3 linked regions of the Homo sapiens genome follow. The protein of the gene in region 1 interacts with the protein of each later gene in a biochemical or structural test. Each region holds a gene or a part of one and is shown in the gene's direction. Other genes may lie near its edges.

Evidence for each region. Proteins that work in one complex are often made in the same cells at the same time.
Region 2: the proteins of OCRL (region 1) and TFAP2A form a complex in vitro, tested with the Homo sapiens proteins (one study listed by BioGRID).
Region 3: the proteins of OCRL (region 1) and RAB14 form a complex in vitro, tested with the Homo sapiens proteins (one study listed by BioGRID and IntAct).

What each region holds. Positions count from the first base shown.
Region 1 is NC_000023.11:129,535,303-129,543,267, forward strand, and holds the start of OCRL (inositol polyphosphate 5-phosphatase OCRL), read left to right. Parts: upstream 1-4,956; 5' UTR 4,957-5,137; coding exon 5,138-5,176; intron 5,177-5,438; coding exon of another isoform or gene 5,439-5,441; coding exon 5,442-5,521; intron 5,522-7,965. UniProt on the Homo sapiens protein: Catalyzes the hydrolysis of the 5-position phosphate of phosphatidylinositol 4,5-bisphosphate (PtdIns(4,5)P2) and phosphatidylinositol-3,4,5-bisphosphate (PtdIns(3,4,5)P3), with the greatest catalytic activity towards PtdIns(4,5)P2.
Region 2 is NC_000006.12:10,405,074-10,412,100, reverse strand, and holds part of TFAP2A (transcription factor AP-2-alpha), read left to right. Parts: exon of another isoform or gene 1-504; coding exon of another isoform or gene 505-531; intron 532-1,765; coding exon 1,766-2,200; intron 2,201-4,173; exon of another isoform or gene 4,174-5,256; coding exon 5,257-5,308; exon of another isoform or gene 5,309-7,027.
Region 3 is NC_000009.12:121,191,869-121,198,895, reverse strand, and holds part of RAB14 (ras-related protein Rab-14), read left to right. Parts: intron 1-5,476; 5' UTR 5,477-5,483; coding exon 5,484-5,535; intron 5,536-6,671; coding exon 6,672-6,725; intron 6,726-7,027.

The sequences.
Region 1 (7,965 bases):
GGCTTTTCAACTAGTGGGGATTTAAAAATAAATGAATCATTTATGCCTCCACTTGGCCTGCCTTCCAGCCTCTGGCTGCTGACTCACCTATACAAAATCTTCCTTCCCAGCCTCATCTATGTTAGGCAGGCCTGTTTTTGCCTTCGCAGGCCCTAAACACTGTCACTTGTGGAGACTTCAGCCAACATCATAATAAACATATTAAAATGCATCCACATCCTGCATTAAACATTTATATTTTTGCTATAAATTTTTGAAAATGCTTTGGTAATTTTGCTTTTGAAATTATTTGTCTGTGCATAACTAATTTAATTTACATGGCTGTGATTTCTCCATAAGAATTACATGTACGTGGGAATTCTTGGGAAGTGAGAAGATCCAACCTAAAAATCGTCTTCAAATATAATGGGTTTTTAAATGCATAATAAATTTAACTGTTAATGAACTTGATATACTGTTCTATTTTGTATGCCATTTAATTATTATTTTTGAATTTGTCATTTTAGTATTTTGTAGCCTTTACTTAAAAACAAATTTTTTTAGAGACAGAGTCTCCTTCTGTCGCCCAGGCTGGAGTGCTGTGGCACAATCATAGCTCACTGCAGCCTTGAACTCCTGGGCTCAAGTGATCCTCCTGCCTCAGCCTCCCGAGTAACTGGGACTGTAGGCACATACCACCATGCCCAGCTAATTTTATTTTATTTTATTTTTGTAGAGATGGGGGTCTCGTTAGATTGCCCAGGCTGATCTCAAACTTCAAATGGTCCTTCTGCTTTGGCCTCCCAAAGTGCTGGGATTGTAGTTGTGAACCACTGTGCTCGGCTCTAGTCTTTTTTAAAGATCCTGTTTTTTTTAATTTTGTTTCTGAAAAGCCTGTAAGTTCTAGACACTTAGTGATAGTTGCCTAATAGATAAAAGACAGGCACTGAGCACCCACTGAATTTGTGTGTGTTTGTGTATGTGTGTACACGCACGCATGTGCAGATGGTGGTGGTAAAGGTGGTGAGATTCATGTTTTCTTGAAGCCAGAGTTTCATTTATTTGAATTTTATTCAATTGTCTTTTAACTCTTTGCATTGGAAGCCACTTATATGCAACCATCATTTCCCCTGTGAGAGACCTCAGTTTTTAGTGTCCTTACCTCAATATATTTTAATTTCCACACAACCTCTTATTCTTCACTTAACAAATATTTATTGAGTGCCCACTATGTGCAATGCACTGTTTAGGTGCTGAGGATACTGTAAAGTTGGAGGAAGAAGTATCTCGCCTTTTCCCTAAGGCCGATTCCGCCATCTACATCTTGGATCTTTGTCCCTCTCAATTACTGAGGGATTTTGCTTGCAACCTTACTGCCTCTCTCTTCTAGCATCTTAAAAGGCCCCCTCTGGCCGGGCGCGGTGGCTCACGCCTGTAATCCCAGCACTTTGGGAGGCCGAGGCGGGTGGATCATGAGGTCAGGAGATCGAGACCATCCTGGCTAACAAGGTGAAACCCCGTCTCTACTAAAAATACAAAAAATTAGCCGGGCGCGGTGGCGGGCGCCTGTAGTCCCAGCTACTCGGGAGGCTGAGGCAGGAGAATGGCGTGAACCCAGGAAGTGGAGCTTGCAGTGAGCCGAGATTGCGCTACTGCAGTCCGCAGTCCGACCTGGGCGACAGAGCGAGACTCCGTCTCAAAAAAAAAAAAAAAAAAAAGGCCCCCTCTTTGTTGGTTCCTTCCTCTTTGCTTTAAAGTGGCTTCAGGCTTTGTCAACAACCTCTGTTTGACCCTTCTAACTAATTTAATTAAAATTGTACTTCGTTCCTTTTTATTTCCAAACCTCTTCAATCTGTGGTCTCTTGTCTCCGTTTTCTCACAATACAGTTCCTCCTCAATTCCCCATAATCTTGTTTCTATCCTCACCACTTATTGAAACCAAACAATTATTGGTCTCCAGTGAACTCCTTGACACGTCCAAAGAAAGTCTCTTTGGCCCTCATTTTCTTGTCCTATTTTCAGCATTTGATACTGCTAACCTCCCCTGCATATTCCTTCTTTATCTTTCGTTTTCATTGACTGCAAATGATTTTCAGTGCAGGAAAGTACATGGAATAACAGAACCAATATATGTACCCACCACCCAGTTCTATCAAATCTTGCAACATCACTTTTCAGATTCTGTTTTGAGAAATAAATATTAGATATATTTGATATTCTCTGTATGCCTCCCCCGAGTGTCAATCCTCTCCCTCTCTTAAATTTGGTGATCATGCCCTTTCATGTTTTATATACTATTACAGTACTACTCATCTATGTAGCCATAAGCAATAGATGATATTTTCAGACTTTATATACACAGTATACTGTACATGTTTTGCAATTTGCTTTTCACTCAACATTATATTTTTGAAATTTAGCTGTTACTACCCATAGCTCAAATTCATTCATCGAGAACACCATTATTTATTCATTCACCTGCTGACATTTACTTGGCTTCCATTTTTGAGATTACAAATAATACTGCAATGAACATTCTTTTATATGTCTCTTTGTGCATATAAAAGGTAGAGTTTTGCCAGTGTCTATATCTAGAAATAGAATTTCTAGATTGAGGGGTATTGCCTTTATTAGACATCGTCAAATTGTTCTTCATAGCAGTTCTACCAACTTAAACTCCTTCTAGCCGTAAATCAGAGTTCCACTGCTAGAACTTCAACAACACTTGGGGTTGTCTGACTTTTTAAATTTTCACAAAACCGATGGTTGTGAAATGGTATCTCGTGGTTTTACTTTTCAATTTCCCTGAATAGTAATAAAGTTAGGCATCTTTTCATGTCTTTATTGGCCATCTGGGTTTCCTTGACTATGAATTACTTACTCAGATATTTTGTCAATTTTTCTATTAGGTTTCTTTCTTATTTATAGGAGTTCTTATATATCCTGGATACCAAGTCATTCATTCATTTAATCAATATTTTTCTAGCACCTACTTGGCTCCAAGAATGGTTCTAGGCACTGAGAATGCAGCTATGATCAAAACAGACAAAATCCTTGCACTCATGGAACTCAACATTCTAGCGGGTGAAGGTAAATGACCAATAATATTGATAAATAAAACAGAAGTGGTAGATAGTGATACATAAGCAGGGAAGAGGGATAGGGAACATGTATGTGTGGTGATGGAGAAGGGGATTGTTGAATTACAATTTTCAATAAAGTGGTCTAGGAAGGCTTCAGTGAGAAAGTGACATTTGAGCAAAGACCTGAAGGAGGTGAGAGTGCATGCAGAGTGAACAGCAAGTGTAAAGGCCCTGAGGTAAGAGTGTGCCTGGCAAGTCCTAGCAACAACAAGGAGTCAGTGTGACTAAGCAAAGCTAGTTAGGGAGAGTGGTGGGAAATGGTGGGAGATGTCCGAAAGGTGATGACAGCTTGTCTTTTTTTTTTTTTTTTTTTTTTGAGACAAGGTCTTGCTCTGTCACCCAGGCTGGAGTGCAGTGGCGCCATCACAGCTCACTGTAGATGTGACCTCGCTGGCTCAAGGGGATGCTCCCACCTCAGCCTCCTGAGTAGCTGGGACTGCAAGCACTTGCCACCACATCCAGCTAATTTTTATAGTTTTTGTAGAGACAGGGTTTTGCCACGTTTCCCAGGCTGGTCTTGAACTCCTGGGCTCAAGTGATCCTACCACCTCGGCCTCCCAAAGTGCTGGGATTACAGGCATGAGCCACTGTGCAGGCCAGTTTGTCTTTTAACTTGTTTATATTGTCTTAAAGTACATACATTTTGAAATTTCATGTAGCTAAATGTCTTATTCTCATTCCATATTCCAAGCTCATACTCAATTTTTTTTTCTGAAAGTTATAAAGTTTTGCTTTTCACATTTAGATCTTTAATCCACCTGGAACTGATTTTTCTTCCATGGTTTGAGGTAGGGGTCTAATTTTTATAATTTTCCATATGGATAAGCAGTAGTCCTAGTACCACTTAGTGGATAATCCATTCTTTCCCCACTGATTTGAAATGTCCCACACGCTGCATATCAACCTTCCGTATATGTGTGGTCTGTTTGAGGGGTTTATATTGTGTTTCATTGATTGTCTATCTCCACAGCATACTTTTAATTACTACAGATTTACAGTCACTCTTGATATCTAGTGTATTATAGATTCTGGAGCAAATGAATAACACGATCGAAAAATTACTTTGGGAAAAATATTTTTATGGCTGTCAACAGAGTAAACATGTCAAAGGAAAGAGTAAACCCAACAGGATTTATTTAAAGAAAAGTGCAATAACCCAGATAGGCTATCACAAGGGCTTACAATAAAGTTATGGCAGTGTGAATGGAGAGAAAATAAGGAATCTAAAAGTAATTCCACGTAAAATATTAACAGGGTGTGTTGACTGATTGGATATAGAGATGAGGAGGGGGAAGACGATATATGGCTTTCCAGTGAAATGATAATGAGTTAGTTTTGTGACGCAGTGATGTGTTAACAATGGACTCTATTAGGTAAGAGGTCTGGGCCAGGGATATATATTTGGACATTGTCTAGTTAGAGGTGAACTGGAGGGGACGCAGAGGAGGAGCAAAGGTCTGGGCTTTGGGGAATTCTCCGATTTAGGGCGTGGAAGAAAGAAGAGGAAAGGAAATGGTAGGATAACCAACACGGGACATTATAACCTTAAGAAATATATATATATATATATATGTATTTTTTTACTGAATGATGTGGGTCGTATTGACACAACAGGTTTGAGATCTCCCATAGGTATGACTGTGTTTTGTTTCTGTGGCCTTCAAAGTCCTCAGAACAATTTTGATGTCACAGGTGGCATTTAAAACCCATTCCTTGCTGGACCTGGTAGAGACGCCCCCAGTCCGTCAGGTCTCTCGCTGCAGTTCCGCAGTTTGACCGCAGGGGACGGAATCTGCGGCGGCCTGGAAAACTGGCGGGGGCGCGAGGCGCCGCTCTCTCTTGGGTCAGATTCTCAGCTCCCAGCTCCCCGCTCCCGGCTCCCGGCGCCCGGCGCCCGGCGCGGAGCTGTTCCTCAAACGACACGCAGCCGAGGTGGGTGGGTGTGGGGACGCGGGAGCCAGTGTCGTCGGATCGGCCCGCAGTCCGCTGTCCTGCTGAGCCCGGAGGCCGCCTGGATGGAGCCGCCGCTCCCGGTCGGAGCCCAGCCGCTTGCCGTATCCGCCGGAGAGAAGGGAGAGGGGAGGCCGCGCAGGGCCGGGGGTGGGGGTCGGGGGCCCTGCGGAACACGGTGGGGCGGGGCAACCGGGTGGCCCAGAGGCCGAGCAGAGAGGGGGAGGGGGCCGGCGCGGGAGACGAAGCAGGGCGGGGCGGGGCGGGGGAGGGCGGCGGTGGGGGGGGGGTGGAAGACCCCCTTCGCCCCGCAGTGCACCACTCCTCCCCACCGCGCTTCCGAAGGAGACCCTTGACTAGCGCCCGCATACTGTCGAGGGTATGGAGATGAAGGGTCCTCTCCGGGAGCCCTGCGCCCTGACCCTAGCCCAGAGGAACGGGCAATATGAGTAAGTAACCACCTGATTCCCACAGAGGAGGGGAGCCTGCCATTACCTCCCAACCCCAAACCGCGACGGGTCACCCACTGTCCTCCTACTGAAGCCACGCGGGCAACAGGTTCAGGTCCAGGTGTGAAGTGCCAGTGCTCTCTAACCTCGGGGCTTTGTCCCCAACTTCCAAGCCTCTGGATTGTGCTTGGCAGTGTGGCTCAGTGGAAGGACTGAATGGGCGGGGAAGCAGGAAGCCTGGGTTCTTAGTTCCTGCCCCTGCAACTGACATGTGTTGTGTAACGTTGGGCAAGTCAATAAAGCTTTCTGGGCCAAAGTTAACTCTTCAGTTTAATAAAACCATTAACTGCCTTACCTTACAGCCTTTGGAATTATAACTGGGGGAAAAATAAATGCGAGAGTGGCTTCCAAAAAGTAAAAGTGCTATGGAAATGCTTCATTGTTAACGTTACAGACTTGTCTTAACCCTATTCAGCTGGTTTCTCCAGTCTCCCCGTCCCCTTATCCCACTGGGTTGAAGGCATATTCATTAATTCAGTAATGGTTTAGTGTAGGCCAGAAACTGCCTCACTTACTGACTTTACTGTTAGAAAGAAAAGGTAATGAAATGTGTAGAGATAGAAATGACAGTATTTTATCAGTGTGTCACCTTCCTCTCTGCCATAGGAGCTCCGTAAATACTGTTGACTGATTGATCAAAAGATTATTTTGATAAGCTATCACCATAGCTGCTAACCTCACTCTATTGTCACTAATATCTTATCTCAAAAATATCCATGGTGACCATTACGTATCATAGGCCCCTATCCCTGTGTGCCCAAGACACCTCACTTGGATATTCATTGGCTTCTTGACATCATATTCCTTCCCAGTTTAAAAATTGTTCACTTAAATCTTGCCATCTCCCAACATTGGCTTCTGCCTAAAACCAATTTTCTCAGTCCCCACTTTTAGATCCTCTGTATCTATGCTGTCAGATTTACACGGAAGAAATTCCCACTGGCCCAACCTGCTCTTCTCTGAGACTATTGGTGCCACTCTAACTGGATGTCAGCTAATTCTGTGAAGTAGCTCTTTCATAGGTCCTGCTTAGTCAGCTCTACTGGGAAGTTCATCAAACCCGGATTTCATCAAACCCTGGAAGACTAGTTTAATGAAACTAAACTAAATTCAGAATTTAATAAAACAAAATTCAGCAGAAAAGTGGAACACCACTAACATTTCCAAAGGCTAGAGTGGGTTACAGAGAGGTGACCCTTGGGCAAACCAGTAAAACTTGTGTGCCTTGGTTTCCTCTAATGTAAAAACAAAATCATGAAGATTGAATAGAGTAGCTACATTGTTGAGATGACCACAGCCCAGAATCTAGTCCCTCGGATTAGTAGATTTGGAACTCTGTTGAGCTAATAAGGAAGTCGTGTGTTCCAATTCTGTGTAAGTTATGGGGGTATAGTTGGGGGTATATGTGGGGGTATGGGGCTGCTATATAACTAACATTAATATATAGGTAACACTATATAACAACTATATAACTAACAACTAATATAGTTGTTGCTATATTAGCAGTTTATATATAAACTATGTAAATAGTTTTAAATATATATAAACTATAGTTTTAAATACATATAAACTATAGTTTATATATAAACTAACATATAACTAACAACTAATATAGTTGTTGCTATATAACTAACATTCAATGGCTGCTTATGTGCCAGGTACTGTTCTAAGCCCTTTTCATTAGTTAGTTCATTTAATCCACATGTGAGGGTTACTATAAGATAGTAATATCATCATCCCCCTTTTATAGATACAGAAATTGAAGCACAGACAGGTTAAGTCACTTGTTTGCAATTAGGGAGTAGAATACCTGAGATCTGATCCTATGTAACATGTCTCAGAATTACACTGAGAAGTTTCTCTTGAAAGCATTTGCTGGAGACACCTAATACCATAATACCATCTGTAATCCTCATATTCTTGTCTCTCTGGTGTCTTTTCTGACTCGAGTGTCCAGAACTTTTTACTTTTGGCTTTTTTATCCTAGAACTTGAAGCCTGACTTAAATCTTTAGGTCTGTGGTTCCTACTGTCAACCATAGGAAATTTGCTTGACCAAAATTACAATTAAAAATCAGGGTTTTTTTGGAAACAGGGAATCAAACACTTAAGATTCATATTTTTCAAGGATAATAGATTATGACAAAACCTGTTTGACCTTTAACCTTCCTTGAACAAATCAAAGTGTTTCCTAGGGATAAGGCAGAGTTGGCATTCAGGATTTGTCACTCTTTTCTGTTTGACAACTACCAAATTCTGAATTCCATTGTTTTGCTGTATACCAATTATTTCTAATCTTTATATTCTGAAATGAATAATTACACTCAGAATTTTTATGCTTATTCTTAGCCCTACTCTTTTATTGTAATTTAGTGGGTAACACGT
Region 2 (7,027 bases), on another chromosome or scaffold:
TCCGCTTCACGCTCGATTTCCAGGCATTCTTCCCTTATTAAGTATTCGTGTAATATTAATAGTCATGAATATCTGCTATTAGGAGGCTCCAGGAACGCTGCCCAGCGCGGTTATTAGAAGCTCAAGCGAAGCCGCCGCTAAGAAAAGAGGGGGAGACACGGATTAAGGAACACGCACGCACCCACACACTCACACATACTTTTTCCTTTTTCCTTTTTTGGGGTTTTTCATTTTTAAAGAACTTTGAATCATAACCAGTCGCGGCAGGATAGAGACCGTGGGTTCGACCAGCTGAAGGCGCCGCGCGAATCGGTGGTTCAAGTTCGGATGGATCCGAGCCGGGCTCCCGCGCTCCGGGGAGCGTCGGCGCCGTGACTGGAGTCCTGGGTGGCGCGGGGCTCTCGGCGCCTTTTGTGTGGGGCGCGCTCGGGCGGCGGGGCAGCCGGGCGCTCCAGGCTTGCTTGTTTTTTTCCACCCTGACTCGTTACCCCAGACTCTTCGCAGATGTTAGTTCACAGTTTTTCAGCCATGGTGAGTCCCATCCCCACCCCCGTTGCTGTTTCTTTAGGAATTGGATTCTGGAAACCTGGTGCCGTGGAGCTGCCCGAAACCTCGGGTTTCACGCCCAGCTTTCCTTCAGGACACCCTCTCCATTTGCATCCCCCACCCCACCTTCCGCCTTTCTCTCGCTCTTTTCCATCCCTAAATCGAGTGCATTACCCCCTACCCCAGCCCCCGCTCGACCTCTCCGAGCACGCAGACCTACCTCGCCGCGGCTTCCCAAGGCGTGTTTCTCCCCACGTTCATCTTGATTTCCTTGAGTCTTCACTTGTCCCCGAGATGTTCTCAACATTTGATGCTTAAACTGTCTGCAGGAAAAGTGCAGCGCGGTGTGCCCCCTACCCTCGGGACCTGCGGCCGAACCGCCGAGGGTTCGCGGTCTCTGGAATCAACTCTCTTCGCTTGTTTTGCAAGGGAATTGCAATAGAGAAACCTAAAGTCAGGCGTTTCTTCTGCCCTTTGGGGCTGGGGTGGAAGGGGCGGGGGGGGGGGGCCACAGCCCCGGGGTGCACCTCTCTCTTTTAAACCCAATAAGGCTGAATCTTTCTATTTTAAACCTTGACTTGACGTCCCCCTTTCCCTATCCAAACCATAAATCGACTCTGTCGAGAAAAAGGCTCCTAACAGAGGAAGCGAAAAAGACAGACCCCGATCCTGCAGTTAAAACCTTCTTTAAGCTGGTAATTTAAACGTGTGTTTTTGTTACAGCCCCTCTGCGAAATATGTTTCTATTTAAGTAGTCATGAAACGGTAACAGTCTTTGAACGTTTATGATTTTTTTCTCTCCAAATAAATGGAAGAGAATAAACAATAACGCAGTGGCAGACAGGTTCAAATCGGGGGAAAAGAAAAGGCCGCTTCTGCTGTTTAGTATTTAGGAGGAATTTTAATTTTGCTTAAGAGAGATTTCACGCTGCAGTTTAATGGGCTGTGTTCCAGGAGACCCTTTTCTATCTTTTCCTCTCTTTGAAAGAAACCCCTAAATAGTCTCTTGTGCCCCCTCCATATACAGTTTCTCTGCGTTGTTCGGTCTGTTTCACTTGAGGGTATTTCCTGAAAAGAACTTAGAGCTGATTTTTTCCCGGCGGCCAGCCAACGGGAACGGGCGATTTCCCACGCAGACTTGTCAAGTGGATTTTGTGTGGATAGTTGTAGCTCGACGCCTGATTCCTTGTTCTTTACCTTTCCTCTCGCTCTCTTCTAGGACCGTCACGACGGCACCAGCAACGGGACGGCACGGTTGCCCCAGCTGGGCACTGTAGGTCAATCTCCCTACACGAGCGCCCCGCCGCTGTCCCACACCCCCAATGCCGACTTCCAGCCCCCATACTTCCCCCCACCCTACCAGCCTATCTACCCCCAGTCGCAAGATCCTTACTCCCACGTCAACGACCCCTACAGCCTGAACCCCCTGCACGCCCAGCCGCAGCCGCAGCACCCAGGCTGGCCCGGCCAGAGGCAGAGCCAGGAGTCTGGGCTCCTGCACACGCACCGGGGGCTGCCTCACCAGCTGTCGGGCCTGGATCCTCGCAGGGACTACAGGCGGCACGAGGACCTCCTGCACGGCCCACACGCGCTCAGCTCAGGACTCGGAGACCTCTCGATCCACTCCTTACCTCACGCCATCGAGGAGGTCCCGGTAAGAGGCCGCGCAACCAGCGCGGGAGGGAACACAGCCCCCTACTTACCTACCCCAGAAAGGATACCTGGAACATACAGTCGGTGGGCCCGGGTTCTCCCTAGTATTTCCTTATAAAAACATTTTATTCGGAGGCGGAGAGTGAGGGACGTTTTGAGGAACCACACAAAGTAGTTGCGAGTTCTACCCCAGAACAATGGTTTCTGGAGCTCCCTCAAACAATGCCTGCATTACCATTTCCACCAACACAGATAAATCAGACGAATGTCACCATTAACAATATCTTCCTCTCGACGACAGTAAACTGTCTCAATTGCTAAAAGATCTACTTCCATCGCTGAGTCTGGCGTGGAGATTTCTCCCTGTCCTGGGAATGATGTTAAATGCAACCAAAAGAGCTCATTAAATGTCCTCAAAATGTAAAAGGAAGTGTAAAAGACACACTAAGATCATTTTAACCGGATTTTATAAGCACAAGTGAAACCTAAAAGTTATGTGTACACCCTATCCTGATTAAAGAAAAACTAAGTAGCAAATCCAAGCAGAGGGACATTAAAATGCAGCCTTCTTCTTACTAGGGGTGCTAAGTGGTGACCTCATAAATCATTAGCTAGGTTCCCAACGCCTATCAGAACCTGCTACACTCCATATTAAATTAAATGTTTCGAGACTATTGGGTAATACATTATTTGAGTTCTAATTTAGTTATCAATAAATGCAGTTTAAAATGATTTCTAAATAAGCATGGCATTAGCACATTTACTATTTACAATGCAAACCAGGCTATTGATAATTTGAAAATACTTTCTGGAATTAAACTTAAACCAGTACCTCTGCTTCAATTCTATATATTTATGGTTTCCTCACAACCCTCCTGAAATGGAATTAGAGCAAGCCAATAATTTTATTAAAGCTGTAAAGGCTTCTGTTAAAGCTGCTTTTCTTTGGAGAGGAAATGTATCTGGATGTGATTTTTACTAAAATGCTATTTCAAATTACTGCATCAAATATTGCAGCAGTATGTCCGTTGACAGTTTAATGATTACTACATTAGATTGTAAGGAAAATGGTCAGATGAACTTACCTCCTTGCTTGGTGAATTTAAAACATTATTTAAGTTCCGTAGGAAAATAGAAAATTTATTACATCTCTCATTTGGCCCAGTTAGTCACTGAAATTTGTTGGTTATGTTTAGCAGCCCTTGCATGGAAGGCAGGAAAGTGGGCACTTGATCCAGTATAAGGTTTAGTGAGCACTGTATGTCTGTATATGTGTGTTCATACTTACATGTTTTTAGAAACTGATACTTAACAGTGCATTTTTTTGGAAGTGAGAGGAGCACTAATTTATATAAGAGCAATTTAAACATGAACTGGGAGTTATGATTATTTTAGTTCCCTTTCCCAAAGCACTCTGAATCTTTTCCTTGCTTGTTCTTTGAAAATATTTGAATTGCAAAATAATGTTGCAAGCTTTTGGAACTACTGTGAATGAGAATTGCTCTACTTTGCAAAAATTTCAAGGTGAATTCTTAACACCTGTATACTCACTCTTTGTGGCAAAATTGGTCAGTAGGAGAAACTAACTAAAAGATTAAACAAAAACAAGGAAACCCAGTTGCTGTTTTTCCCTCTCCCTCCCCCATCTTTTAAGAAAAAAATTCTTTCAAAGGAATTTGGGTCAAGAAAAAGGTTGTTTTCAATTTTTTCCCATTGCTGCAACAGTTAACCTTTAGTAAGTATAACTGCTAAATATTTAAGAAAATCAAATCGATGGTGAAAATTATTTAATCATTAATATCTCAGTGGGGTTTTAAACTTAACAGTCTTCCCTGTATGGACAAGGTCTAGAAATAACACAAATAAAAGTATTATGCCACACTACATTTACTTTATGGGTTTAGGGTGCATGCATAAAGGGATCATATTTCCCCATATAGTTAAAACACAAGAACTGCAGCAGTAGTCATTTCTGAACATTTCTCAATTTAATTATACTTAAATCCAGAAGCACTTTAGGCAAGTTACAAATGAGAGCATTGAGTATAATAAAACCTGTAATAAAGCAACTTAGTACCATCCACCCGGAATCATTGCGATCAGGCACAATTAACAGGAGCATAAATCCAAGACAGAATGGAAAATGTTCGAATCAGTATTATTGTTGGACAAAGACTAGAGAAGGAAGCAATAGTTTTTTAAATGGTAATGCCTGTGTTTGGTAATGATTGCAAAATCTTCTATCTCAGCAGCCCTGGTGCTAATTTGTAAACACAGCCAGACATTATATTGCCTGTCAGTTTCTGCATTAGAAAACATGACTTCATTTTACTTTCTAATCACGTTTTGACTCTAGTGCGCACACGTATACCCATCCATCTGTAAAAAAAAAAAAAAAAAAGAAAAGAAAAAGAAAAACACCCCACACTAACAACAAACCTGCTGTTGGACAACAGGAAAGCAAGCTCAAAGGTTTTTTGGTTTTGGTCATTTTCATATTCCTATCATACCCAGGCTTAGGCAGTAGTCTTTCTAAAAATTTATGTGGAGTTTTCCATAAAGGTGTGTGTGTTTGCTCTTTATTATACTACCTAAACCTTTTCTTTTCCAACACTCTCCTGTTACTCCCGCCCCTGTCATTTCTATTGTGTTTCCCTGGCTTTCGCTGCCTGAACACTGGAATTGCTAAAGTCAGAAGCCGCTGAGGCGCCAATCTAAAGCTAGGTACATTTCTAAATGTTGAACTGACTGAGAATGATTAGGTGCTCCAACACTTGATTTAATTTCCAAAGAAAGTTTTATTCCCCATCTCCACCCCTTTTAAACATGGATTATTTGCTGGAGGAGGAGAAATTGGCCATGGGTGTGCAGTGAAACCTCTTGAGTTGCAAAGCCCCAAATTCCAATAAGCCAAGATGAGATGTTTATATATAAATGTCATTATACGGGAGGGGGAATTTTGATTCTACACCTTCCCCTCCTCCCATCTTGCAGGGAATATTCATTTCCTTTTGTTTTGATGATACACTTACATCCATGTGTATCCTTTTGTTGCAGCATGTAGAAGACCCGGGTATTAACATCCCAGATCAAACTGTAATTAAGAAAGGTAAGCCATTTCCTTCTGCATTCCAAGCATGTCCTTACAGGCAGAGTGCTATTTAAAAGAACTTGCAGAGATGTGTTTATTTTTTCCAAATAGGATTTCCTAAAGGCTCAGAATTAGCAAATAGATAGGCACAGAACAGCAATGCTTAAATAATCAGCCTTCAGTATGTTGGTAATGCCAACAGGCTAGCTTTGTTCTGACTCATGATTTGACCATTTAATTTAGTTTAATGATATTTGGACAAACACACAAAATGTACAGTAGTTGAACTGATTTGGAAGTGGCATTTCAATTTTGAAACAGTTTGATAGTTTAATCCATTGCCTGGATGAAGGTTAAGAAGTGTATAATGCTAAAATAGTACAAATAATTTAACATTAATGTAAGAACAGATGATAAGAAGCACTCTTTAGTAGAGGAAAAAAACATTCATGTTCTTCAATTTAGTTTCTTGTTAGCTGTTTAAGGGTCTTAGAACTTTGTGAATTAGGTTAACAAAATTTTAGCTTTTGGTTAAAATTAGTATCTTGAAGATGGGAGGAATATTAGCATACTTGTTCAGAGGAGAAATTGTTAGAAAAGTGTCAAGTGATTTGCATGGATTTGTAATCTGTATTGTGTTTAGTGAGTAGAAATAAAGTTTACTGAATTAAATGCTATTCACTCTTGGTAGCAGCTTTTTTTTTGGTTATGGTGGCAATGTTACATTTCAGGATTCTAGGCACCACCAGAGGACGATGCTATATAAAACTGTTCTCATTTCTAACCCCAATCAGTATATTGTTAGCTAGTTTAAAGTTTCATTTTTGCATCTGTGAAGTCTTTGTCACGTCAAATTAGATGTGCAAGGGATAAATCTTAAGAGATGCTCTTTCCAAGTCGACATGATAATTGGCTCTTTTATTAGTAATCTCTCAAGAGTTCGTTTAACTCCTATTGTCTCTATTAGCCTCCCCAGAGCTATTAATGTCACAAGTGATCTATCCAAAACCTAGAGCCCCCCACCTCCCTATACCTCTAGCATATCCCCATTAAAGAACGCATAAGGAACACTGTGATGAGATTGTGTGCATATGATGTCTCCAAATGGAATTTTAAAATACAATGCATACTGTACTTAAATGGTTGTGAATGCATCTGAATTACACTGGTGCTGAGAAACGTAATGCATTAGTATACTTTCTGCAGGTCTTCTATTTTTTTTTTTTCTAACAGTGGTGAGTCCAGCAATAAAGAGCTTATGGTTTTAACTAGGAAGTATATATACCCACTTTCCCAATAAAGGCGCTTTAGCAGAGGACTGTTAAGTATTTACTTAACAAAAGGGCACATTGCTAGTATTCCACTGTAGGCCTGTTCTTCCCTCCCCACTCCGCAGTTCAAAACTGGCCTTGGAATGGATCTCCAAAACTGAGACGTTTTCAAAATTGAACATAGGAAAGGGCCTATTTATCAAAAAGACGGGACGTGTGGTGTGGACAACAAAATCCACCACTTCCCAGCGTGGTGCCTCAATTAAAACGCTCGTTTACAGGGTGCTTTAGCCATCTAAATTGTCGGCTGATTTTAATAATGGGTCTTTGAAGCAGTTTTTCCCCGACACTAAAACCCCACCCAGCAAAACCCCTGAAGTACAAGTAACTTGCTCTCGGTTTGCAAATGTAATTCCCTCCCCTGCACCCTGAACCCGTGGTCCTGGACCTCATCTGGGGCCCACTC
Region 3 (7,027 bases), on another chromosome or scaffold:
TCATTTTTATTAGATTAGATTATTAGATTAACTACAGAAGTTTTATCCGCCTGACTGACAAATCAGGTAGTAGTGGTCCATTTTAGTGGGCCTCTAAAGCAAGTCAGCATGCTTCTGTTGTTGAGTTCCACGAAGGCAGAGACAGTGTTGTCTTTTTTGATCATTGCTGTCTTGCTAAAGCCTGGCACAATGCTTTGTGCTTAGTAGATACTTAACAGATATGTTTATGTTGGAACTACAGAAGCAGTCCATCTCAGCTCTGGTATTTTTAACAAAACGTCGTGCATGTTAAAAAACAAACAAAAAACTTATCAGTGGAAATAACAAGGATAAGAATTAAATTACCTGGAATATTTAATGGGTTGCTTTTCCCTTGTTATGTCTTGGATCAGCTATGTAAAAATTATACAGTAACATCATAGGTTCTAAGGAGTAGAATAGCTGTATAACAGTTTTTAAAATCAGAGCAAACAGTAAGTAGTTAAGCTATTAAAAAACTCCCAAAAATATGCCCTCTACTATTGAGTGTTGGTTTTTCTATTTTGAACCCAATCGTATTATTGGCTTCATAAGATATTCCTCTTATTATCAGTAAATGCGGAAATAATGTTGGGAATATTATGAGTGGGAGATTTGTTTGTTTTTGTTTGGGTATTCTTTAACCTGTATTAAAATAGAAAAGGGCTTTTGAAATATTTATCGGTAGAGAAAATTTTATTTTTAATTCATTATAGTAAGTCAGTGCAGGGATATATAAAGAAAAGTTAATAATTTCTCTATTCCCTGTTTCTCCTGTCCATGTATTTTTCACAATTTGGTGTGTATTCCATATTATATGAATATAGGGTTGAGTGTGTGTGTGTGTGTGTGTGTGTTTGAAAGTGGGGTATGCTGTTGCATAAAACTCTGCAACATGTGTTTTTTCACTTAACAAAATCATGGATGTATTTCCAGGTTAATGCATATCAATCAAAATGGTTTCTAAACTACATGGATATTATTTTGTATTATAGATGTACTTTATTCAGTCATTTCTTTGCTGATTATTTCCAGTTTTTTGCTGTAAAAATGGTGCATTAAATGCACTAATACCTGTAGCCTTATGGGCTGAAGCTTTTGTATATGTAGGATACTTTCTGGGCCAAAGGATGATTTGGATTATTGTTAAGATTTTTAAACATACTGATTACTTTCCAAAATGTTGGCACATTTCCACAAGCAGTATGTATGAAAGTGTATACCTTCACATCTGTACCTACATGTTTCAAAACTAGTCGTTTATATGTCTGTGTAATCTTAGAAAGGTGTCTGATTCAGTAAATAGAAACCATGCATTCTATTTTTGTCACAACAATAATTAGTGTTTAATATTTGTTCAGTAACCACTTAGATCTAAATGTACTGACATGAAAATGTGTCTATCATTTTGTTGAGTAAAAGAAATATGCAGAATTTTACAAGATGGCGTACCCCATTTTAAAATACATTTTTCACCTTAACAGTGGTGAAAATGGTGGTGAAAAATGGTATATTTTCACAGTGGTGAAATGGTATGTTTCCCCAGTGGTGAAAACTGGTATGTTTCATGTTCAGGAGATGAGGTTGAGAAATCCTTTATTAAAGCAATATTAAGCATATTAATATTTTTAAGGAGTCAGTTGAATACATGGCACAGTTGTTAGTGTTTACTATGCATTTAGTAAATATTTCTCTTGGCAGCAAGGGTAGTTTATAGCTAAATTTTACATGCACTAATATCCTTCCTCTTTCTCTGATTTTTATTTTATCAGTCTACCTGTACATACCTGAAATAAGCTAATAATACCTTAGAGAAAATCATGGTCTTTGGAATCAGGCCTGGGTTCAAGTTCTAGGTCTACCATTTACAAACTTTATAACATTGGCCAAATGAGTGAATTTCTCCAAACCTCAGTTTCTTTAATTTTTTGCATGGACATAATGATAATGACTCTGCAGAGTTGTGAGAATTAAGTAAGAATTATAAAAAGTAGTATAGATCATTACATGGTTTACTCTCAAGTGTTCTCAAGAAACTTTTTCTAAGTAAATGAATTATAGTATTATAAGTTAGTATTACTAGTATTACCAGTCATTTATATCTATAAATTCTGACTGCAGTGCATCCTCTGAATGTAATTCATGTATCTTATTCAGAATATTAAATTATAATTAAGCGAGTGAATACTGCAGAGCTACATGGTACAGCTGATAACCATGTGGAGGAGGCACGACGGTGGAGAGGGCAGGATGGTGTGGTGGTTAAGAGGGGATCTCTGTAGTTAAAACAGTCCTAGGTTCAGTACAGACTTGGCTGTGTGACCTGGGCATGTTACCTCTTGAGTCTGTGTCCTCATCTGTAAAATGAGGATAATAATTAACTATGTTATAGGATAGTAGTAAGGATTAAATGAAATTGTATGTAAAATATTTAGCACATTGCCCGGCATATGTCAAGTACCCAATAAATAGTAACTCACAATTGTATTTCTTATTAGTTTGCAAATTGTTGATTATGTGTTAAATGCCTGTTGTCTAAATATGTGGTACTTTTTTTCCTTTAAAGGCAATAAAGATCTTTTACTTACATATGAACTTGATTCGAATACTTTCTGTAAAATGTGGAATAAAGTGAATTTTAATTGTCCCGGTAGTTGTATACAAGTTATAGAATATTACCAGGATTTTTTTTTTCATTTATGGGGATTGTAATGTTAAGTGGGCTCATGTTTTCAGAGTTTGAACCAGACCAGCATTTCCTGTCCTTTTTTTTAGACTCAAGAGTTCTCTAAGTAAAGCAAAAGTACTGTTAAATAATAGGGGAAGAATTTTTTCCCTTCCAAAGTTAGGTAAAAATATATTCCTCACCTTAACAATAGTATGTTTCATGTTCAAGAAATGAGACTGAGAAATCTTTTGTTAAAGCAACATTAAGCCTATTTAGTATTGAATATAATTCTACTGCAAATACTTTTGACTGAAATGTATTAATATCAGTCAACTATGGGAATATATTTAAATCTAGACAGTATCTTCTTAGAATAAGAAAGGGAAGACCTGTTGTGAGTGTTGGTGGCTACAGTGTTAAATGTTTTCTGCCTTTGTTTACTGAAATTAGTAAGTTTGAGTAGTTTTCCTTTAATTCTGCTTTTATGGTTTTTATTTGTAATTTTTAAAGAAACGAGCAAGAAAAATGTGTGGTGTGGTGAGACAGAGCCCTGGTATTAAATCCGAAATAGTGATCATTTCTTTTATTTGGAAATAGTTTCTACTATATGAATGTTTGTAATTTTAAGATACATTTTCAAAATTAGTTATCTCACATTTAATGAATGTATGATAATTAGCAGGTACACAAATTAGTACAACTAAAATTGGGTCACAATTTTATGATAGTCTTTAAAGCATTTGAAGTAGAAATTTGGGATTGTTAGAAGTCATAGCTTTAACATAAAATAGAAGGAGCAAAGTATGTACAGCTACAACCTTTAGTTAGAAGAGGGAAAGAAATTAGGAAAATCAAGGGAGAAGAGCACAGAAGAGACAGTAATTTGAAGGTGACTAAGTGATTACTTTTACCCAGGTTTGAATGGGGAAAGAATTTAGAAGAATTAAAAATTGATTAGAAGAGTCGGAAGAATTCAAGTTAAGAAGTTAATAATCTTTAAATATTTTTAATGTAAGAGATTACTTTTCCCCCTTGTGTTTGGCATCTGGTTCAGAGATCAGGTAAATAATCCAGACCAGTTTTAGTCTCAGGACCAAGTTCATTCTTAAAAGTTTTGAGTTCCTAGTGCCTGGAAAAGGGAATAAAGTTGTTGTGATGTTCAGAATCAGTTAATCTAACTAGAAAAACTCCCTTTCCTGAAAGAACTGGTTAAGGGAGTTTTCTGTGATGCAGGAGACTGATTATAAATGTGTTAGAACATGCCAAACTGGAATGGGTAACAAGGCTTCTACTTTCACTAAATGTAATACAGATAGCTAAGTGAGAAGACTGTAGTGTGTGGAAGTGATTAATACTTTACTGTAATTAACAACTTCCTCTTCCCTTATAATAATACACTTGTTTTAAATATATATTCTTTCTACGGGTTCAATGTTGTTATATAGAACTTTTGCTTGAAATATGGTATATAGTAAGGTGATAATTTCAGTAAATAAATTTCTCCAGTCATATTAAATGTCTGGCTTGTGTAATGTGACATTGACAGAAACACTAAAAGCCAGGCTTAAAAATACTGTAAGTCAGATTTTTTTAAATGGGTGAAATCTTTATATGTATAAATAATTTTTGTCTTAAGCTGAAAGCTGGTTTGAGAATAAACTTTATTGAAAGTTATTACCAGTTTTACAGTTCAGCCCCTTGTTTCTCTCTAGGACCTAGCACGTGTCTTACACATTCAGATAATTCATTTGAATAAATTGGAAAGTTTTTTGTTTTCTTTTTAAGTAGAAGAGAAATTAGAATTCTTTAGGTTAAGTCTATTTGAGGGTAAGAAATGGGCTGTGATCTTTTGAAATATCTTCTAATACACAAGCTTTCAAATTTTGCAACCATAAGTACAATTTTATGACATTATTTCTTTCAGTCCCTAGAATAGTGTATGGGAAGCACTTACTATGTTGTTAATCTGGCTGGGCACAGTGGCTCATGCCTGTAATCCTAGCACTTTGGGAGACTGAGATGGGAGGGACGCTTAAGGCCAGGAGTTCAAGACCCAAGACCAGCCTGGTCTTCAAAAAATGTGTGTGTGTGTGTGTGTGTGTGTGTGTGTGTGTGAGTGATAATCTGCAAGTCCTGTATTAGGTTGAGCTATATGAAAATGCCAATAAACTTTGACTTGAAAAATCTATAGGAAGAACAGTTTCATGTGATTCAGTCTAGTTCCAACATTGATTTGGAAATCATACGATTGCTCTTTGCGCTGCTAACTGTTGATTTAAAGTAGAGTAAAAACGTTGTTTTGTGTTTATAAATTAAGTGGTTCCTTTATATACCATTCTGTTTAATATCAGAGTTCTGAACAAGTAGATCATTAGTAACTTACTTGATCAGTTAACAGGGAAGGGGACTTTAAGGGGAGAAGAGACTATAGTGATGTTTAACTTAAATTTATAAAGATTTTTTTGTTTGACAATTTTCAGATTAATACTTATTGGATTTTTTTTAAATTATACTTTTAAGTTCTAGTGGATATTAAGTGAAATATTGGAGTTGTGGTATAAATGGTTTCTTATATTTCTGTGGATAGCACATGAGAATGTGTAAGCATCATTCATCCAAGAGAATTTGTGTATTTGATCAGTTTGTGAAATGCAGTTTTATTTTGACTTACTGTAACCAACATTTGTTTGTATTCAGTGTCCTTTTCTACCTTTAAAGGATATCAGTCATCCGTTTGAATTACTTGTATATGCTTTCCTTCTGAAGTAACAGAGATTTCTTTGTTTTTAGTGCCACCATGGCAACTGCACCATACAACTACTCTTACATCTTTAAATATATTATTATTGGTAAGTTTATTTAACTTACACTCTTGTTCCCAAAAGAAGGTTAACATACAAAATATTTATATGTTAATACTTAAACAGTACCACTTCAGGACTGAGTGATTTTCTTACTGTAAAACTAAAACTCCTTTTATAAGATTTATTTTTGCATTAGCAATGCAGCTTTTGCATTGTGGCCATGGATATTTCTGTGGTACAGTGCTGGTGGGTACCTTGTGAAGTGATGTTCATTGTTCTTGAGGGCTGCTTGAAAGCTTTTTGATGCTAGGAAGTATCAGTGTTTCAAGGAGTGCAGAAACATTCCTAAAATACTGTGAAAGCTCTCAGATTCCCCTGGGTTTCTGTTATAAGGAAAAATTGGTAGAGAATATTGTTTGATTCCAAATCAATTGTGTAATATATATAAAATATAGTATTTTTCTTAATTGGTGTTTTTTTCCTTAAGTTTCAAGAAGGTTTTGCTCAAATTAAGTCTTAATGCTATTTATCCAAACATAAAACTACATTTGAAAGTACACGTTTTTCAATGAATTGTTCACATTAGAACAGTTTGCTTTCATGTTGAACTTAATGTGTCCTTTCTAATGTTTCCTTCATCAAGGGTTAACATTGCTATAGTACAGTCAGAGATGACATCTTTTCTCCTGGGGTTTTCATGTAATGCAAATTCTTTTCTTTCATAGAATAATACAAGAAGTATAAGACAGGGACCTAGTGAATCAAGCTTCCAGAACTCAGTTTGTTATTTCTGCTTGTTACATGCTACCCCATTTGTCAGTTTTTGAAATTTGTTGCTTTTATGCATGAGTTTAAGGAAAAAAACAAAAGAAAACAAAAACATAAAATTTTGAAACAGCTCAAAGTAAAAAAAATTCCATTAAAAAAATAAGCACTTCCCAGCTGGTGGCTATTTATTAACAGTAATAATTTACAGCCAAATTCTGTCACTGCTAAAGATTGGGAATAATATTCCATTTGTGTCTCACAGTGAAAACTTTTGAATCATTATAAAGTAGGAAAATAAAAATTTGTTAAGTGTCCCAGAAACTTGTGATATGTTATATGGTAAGGAATATAGCGATCATTGCATAAAATTGAGAAATGTAATTGCCACCTGAAACTTCTTTTTTTTTAAACAGGGGACATGGGAGTAGGAAAATCTTGCTTGCTTCATCAATTTACAGAAAAAAAATGTAAGTTCAATACATGAGGTAAACATTAATAGTTTTCTTTATCGCCATGTTTCTACTTTTTAGAAAGTGTCATTTTCAGTATACTTCATGCATTTAAATATAACCTTTCCCTATATTTGTACTTTTTTTAAATGGGTACAGATAAAATGAAATATGCCAGCATATTTTAGGGTTGATTTTTATACACATTATATAATCTGATTTGCTTGTTTTGATTTCTTGATGTTAAAATAATTTTTAAAAATACATAAAATAATGTCAAACTTAATCTTTTTATTCTCTGACTTTCTGTTACAGGAATT